Linked DNA regions of Homo sapiens: region 2 is linked to region 1. Evidence: fine-mapped expression QTL. A gene starts in region 1. The other region holds a variant in brackets. All regions are shown on one strand. Distances are from middle to middle. Region 1 holds the start of EPRS1 (glutamyl-prolyl-tRNA synthetase 1). Region 2 overlaps EPRS1 (glutamyl-prolyl-tRNA synthetase 1).

Evidence for each region. PIP is the estimated chance that this variant, and not a neighbour inherited with it, causes the effect.
Region 2: its variant is fine-mapped to the expression of EPRS1 in whole blood (TOPMed, PIP 0.98).

What each region holds. Positions count from the first base shown.
Region 1 is chr1:220,045,510-220,048,532 of GRCh38, reverse strand. It overlaps EPRS1 (glutamyl-prolyl-tRNA synthetase 1), which reads left to right and starts at 2,028. Exons shown (of 32, transcript NM_004446.3): 1 at 2,028-2,190. The coding sequence starts at 2,145. RefSeq lists enhancers at 1,817-1,886, 1,947-2,276, 2,318-2,875.
Region 2 is chr1:220,000,148-220,002,647 of GRCh38, reverse strand. It overlaps EPRS1 (glutamyl-prolyl-tRNA synthetase 1), which reads left to right. Exons shown (of 32, transcript NM_004446.3): 17 at 1,393-1,510. Among named protein-coding and RNA genes, the nearest start is that of EPRS1, 45 kb to the left of the region's middle. The variant G/A (reference allele first, on the strand shown) is at 1,250.

The sequences.
Region 1 (3,023 bases):
AAATCCAACATAACTAAAAAATGATTGGAACTAGTAAAAGCATCCAACAAGATGGTAACTCTAAGACCTAAGACTTTCTGCTATAAGTCCCACTATCCTGAAAGTAGGCTTCTTTTTTTTTTTTTTTTTTTTTATTGAGATGAAGTTTTGCTCCTGTTACCCAGGCTGGAGTGCAATGGCGTGATGTCAGCTCACCGAAACCTCTGCCTCCCAGGTTCAAGCGATTCTCTGGCGTCAGCCTCCCGAGTAGCTGGGATTACAGGCATGCACCACCACACCCAGCTATTTTTTTGTATTTTTACTAGAGATGGGGTTTCTCCATGTTGGCTTGGCTGGTCTCAAACTCTCGACCTTAGGTGATCCGCCCGCCTCAGCTTCCCAAAGTGCTGGGATTACAGGCATGAGCCACCGCGCCTGGCCTCAAGTCTCATGGGAGATGTAATCTAAGGGGCCCTCCCTAATGAAAACAAGGATGTCTTGGGGAGGTTAAGAAAAAGTGTAGGCGAGGATGTGGTTGAGATGGTTCTTGGAATCCATCCCGGGTCCCCGTACTTTAACACCAGCCCTTGAAATATGGGTGCAGCTCACACACACGAATGTGTGTATACACCTTGGAGTATCTCTGGAGCTCATGCATGCACGTCCGTCACAAAGGATTTGAAAGGGAGAATCAGATGAGACGCTGAAAAAAACACCTGTGGACTCCATGATTGGGGGCGGCATCGGAGGGTTTTTTTGTTTTGTTTTTTAGATCAGGTCTCTCCCTGTGTCGGCCAGGCTGGAGGGTAGTGGCTACTCACAGGCAAGTCCACGGCGAGGCCACTACAGCCTCATCTTCCTGGGCTCAGGCGATCCTGCCTCAGCCTTCTTAATAGCTGAGACTACAGGAGCGCGCCACTGCGCCTATCTGCAGTGATTTTTTGTTTGTTTTGAAACGGGGTCTCAGTCTGTCGCCCAGGCTGGAGTGCAGTGCCGCGATCTCGGCTCACCGCAACCTCCTCCTCCCGGGTTCAAGCGATTCTCCTGCCTCAGCTCCCCAAGTAGCTAGGATTAAAGGTGCGCGCTACCATTCCCGGCTAATTTTTGTACTTTTAGTAGAGACCCCCGTCTCTACAGTTTCACCATGTTGGTGAAGCTGGTCTCCAACTCCTGACCTCGAGATCCGCTCGCCTCCGGCCTCCCAAAGTGCTGGGATTACAGGCCTGAGCCACCGCGCCCGGCCTCTGCTGTGATTTTTTTTTTTTTTCTTTTCGAGAAGGAGTCTCACTCTGTCGCCCAGGCTGGATGCAGTAGCACGATCTCGGCTCACTGCAACCTCCACCTCCCAGGTTCAAGCGATTCTCCTGCCTCAGCCTCCCAAGTAGCTGGGATTACAGGGGCCCACCACCATGCCAGGCTAATTTTTGTATTTTTAGTAGAGATGGGGTTTCACCATGCTGGCCAGACTGGTCTCGAACTCCTGACCTCAGGTGATCCGCCCGCCTACACCTTCTAAAGTGCTGAGATTACAGGCGTGAGCCACCACGCCCGGCCTGCAGTGATTTTTAAAGAGTCTTTTATATTTCCTTTAACCATTATTTTCAACACGCAAATAACTCTTGAAAATACGTTCTTGTTTTGGAAAAAAAAAAACGGGGGGGAATGTATAAAATAAACAACGAGAAAAACTTCTCCCATTCCCAACGTAATCATGGCTATCGTGTGTATGCTTCCAGGACTTTTCTTTTTACATAAAGACAGTGCATGCTTTTGTTTCGTGCTTCACATAAACGCCTATCCCATCTTAAAGATGGTTTTACAACCTGCTGTTTTACGACCTGCTGACTTGACGAAGTGTCGTAAAGTCCCGTCCACTTCAGCGTCTTTCCCACCGCAGCACGAAAGGCCACGCAGGCCGTTCTAACCCTGGCGGCCAAGAGGAGGGGTAGCAGGCTCTGGAACCTGCGGGCGGGGACGAAGACGGCGCGCGACGATGTCGCACCGCGGCGTGCGCGGTGTCGGCAGTAGCTGCGGCGCAGGGGCGGAGCGAAGGCTGCGGCGGCGTCGGGTACGCGCACACGTTGCATCTTCTTCCTTTCGCGGGGTCCTCCGTAGTTCTGGCACGAGCCAGGCGTACTGACAGGTGGACCAGCGGACTGGTGGAGATGGCGACGCTCTCTCTGACCGTGAATTCAGGAGACCCTCCGCTAGGTAAGGGGCCGAGACCAATGACCTGTGTGGGTTGCATCAGCCAGGGAGGGTGCAGGGCGTGGAAGGTCGCTGCGCCCCGGCTTTGCGCAGTGGTGGTCACCATCTGGGATGTTGGACCTGCCCCTCGCCCCAGAATTGTACGTGGAGGAGGCTCCGCACCCCTCGCCCCGTGTCCCCGGCAGGTGCATCTGCTCCTGAAGATGGTTTTCCCGGGCATGGAGGGAGGCGCAGTGTGAGCCCGGGCTAGACAACACGAGACTCCGCTTCGGATCTTTTTCTCAGAGGGATGAACTCCCAGTCAACTCACCTCTCCCTTTTTCCCCCGGAGAGCGAGAGTTGCTCGTGGAAATAAGATTTTAAAACTTAAAATCCAATAGTCGTCGCTTCTCTTTTAGCATTTTTCCCCCAACTCCTTTTCTTACCTCCTTTCCTGTCCTGTCCCTCCTCTCAGGAGAAATCCTCAGTTCACTTGAGTCAAATTTTCCTTACGTTTTATCGAGTTCAGAAGAAATAACCCAGACGAGCATATTAGCATTTAGGATTTCAACTGAGGCTGCATTTATTTTTAATTAAATGTGGTAGGGTAATTGGGGAAAACACCCAGGTACACTGTAGACTGATGCGGTTGCTTTTACTGCACCCTGTGGATGTGTAGTAAATTTCAGAGTAAACATTGGATCTGTCACCTTACTGACACATCTTAAGTTCTGTTTGGAATTATTTTTTCGACATGACCAAGATTATTGTTGGTAGATTGCTTAGAATTTCTGCTTTTTCATTACTTTGGGAAATTACACAGAAGAATTTAAGTAGTTTGCCGATTTTTTTTTTTC
Region 2 (2,500 bases), 46 kb after region 1:
GCTCAAGAGATCCACCTGCCATGGCCCCCCGAAGTGCTGGGATTACAGATGTGAGCCACCATACCCACCCTTAAATATTTTAAAATAAATAAATGTTTTACAGAAATTTTTCTGCTTATAAGCAGATTAGGTGTGGTATGTAGACAAATTTTCTTGAAGTCAAGAGTATCATTAACATTCACTAACGCCCTTTCTAGTGGCAGGCATAGCAGATATAATTTTGCCCTGGACATAGTTTGTTCATATGGACGAAAGTTCATAGATTGGAAGTTTGTAATAAGGACTGTCAATTTTTTTTCTTTTTTTTTTTCCATTGAGGCAGAGTTTCTCTCCTGTTGCCCAGGCTGGAGTGCAATGATGCAGTCTCAGCTCATTGCAATCTCCATCTCCTGGGTTCAAGCGATTCTCCTGCCCCAGCCTCCAAAGTAGCTGGGATTACAGGCGCCCGCCACCATACCTGGCTAAATTTTTGTATTTTTTAAGTAGAGACAGGTTTCACCATGTTGGCCAGGCTAGTCTCGAACTCTTGACCTCAGGTAATCCACCTGCCTTGGCCTCCCAAAGTGCTGGGATTAGAGTCATGAGCCACCACGGCTGACCAATTTTTTTTTTTTCTTTGGAGACAGAATCTCACTCTGTCACGCAGGCTGGAGTGCAGTGGTGTGATCTTGGCTCACTGCAACTTCTGTCTCCCAGGTTCAAGTGATTCTCCTGCCTCAGCCTCTGGAGTAGCTGGGACTACAGGCACCCGCCGCCACGCCTGGCTAATTTTTTGTATTTTAGTAGCGATGGGGTTTCACCGTGTTGCCCAGGCTGGTTTTGAACTCCTGAACTCAGGCAATCCACCCGCCTTGGCCTCTCAAAGTGCCAGTATTATAGGGGTGAGCCACTGCGCCCGGCCAAGACTGTCAATTTTTATTTATGCATTTGTTGTTTGTAAAACTATTCTGAAGAGCCTCTGATTTGAATAGTAAGACAATGGACTATTTTATACTTCAAAAAGCATTAACTGGACAGGTGCAGTGGCTCACACCTGTTATCCCAGCACTTTGGGAGGCTGAGGTGGCCGGATCACTTGAGGTTAGGAGTTCAAGACCAGGCTCTACTAAAAATACAAAAATTAGTGTGGTGGCATGTGGCTGGTAATCCCAGCTACTTACAGGCTGAGGCAGGAGAATCACTTGAACGCAGGAGGTGGAAGCTGCAGTGAGCTTAGATCACATCACTACATTCCAGCCTGGGCGACAGA[G/A]TGAGACTGTCTCAAAAAGGAAAGAAAAAAAGAAAGAAAAGCATTAACTTAGTGCCATTGAATTTATCTAGGAATTCAGTGTTTATTGCTGTTCAGATAATTTTGTTCAAATAAACTATTTTGTCCCTTTATTTTCTTTTTAGCCCATATAGTTGCAAGGAAGCCCCGTGTGTTTTGATATACATTCCTGATGGGCACACAAAGGAAATGCCAACATCAGGGTCAAAGGAAAAGACCAAAGTAGAAGCCACAAAAAATGAGGTAATGACTTTTACGGATATGTGTATAAAAATAAATGGTCTTTCTATCCCAGGGTTTAGAATATATTTCTTTACAGATGATTATCTTTCTTACTGTGGAGACTGAAGAAGACAGTTAAGTCTTGCTCTTTGCATTTTGTTGTTATCCTTTCATGTAAGATTTTAAAATCTCACTCTCACCCAAGGCTGGAGTGCTGTGGCGCGATCTGGGCTCACTGCAACCTCCGCCTCCCGGGTTCAAGCAATTCTCATGCCTCAGCCTCCTGAGCAGTTGGGATTACAAGCGTGCACCATGACGCCCGGCTAATTTTTGTATTTTTAGTAGAGACAGGCTTTTGCCATGTTGGCCTGGCTGGTCTTGAACTCCTGACCTCAGGTGAAACTCCCACCTCGGCCTCCCAGAGTGCTGGGATTATAGGCATGAGTCACCGTGCCTGGCCAGACCCCTTATACTCTTAAGAATGATTTGCTTATGTGGGTTATATTTATCAGCATTTATCATACTAAAAATTGAGAAGTTTTAAAAGGATTTAATTCATGTAAAAATAATAAATCCAGTTACATGTTAACATACGAAAAGTTTTTATTAAAAAAAATTTTCCAAAATAAAAATTTTAGTTAAAAGAGCGGTATGGTTTTAAATTTTTACAGATCTCTTTAATATCTGACTTAATAGCTTCTAAAAACCTGTACAAACAGTCATGAGAGAATGAGAGCGAAAAAGACAAAATACATCGTAATATAGTGAAAATAGCTGTGACTTTGCAGATCCCCTTTAAAAGGGTTTTATATACCCCTTGGGGTCTGTGGACCACACCTTGAAAATTGCTACTATATATTATTCAATAACTCATGGAGTAAGCATGAGATGGGAAATTTGGTTGCTTTTCCCTCATTGGTTCCAGTTCCCATCTGTGCCTATCATTTTTTACATATCCTAGAAAGATAACTGGTGTTATGCTATAAGTTAGTATGTGTTCTTGAAAAACTT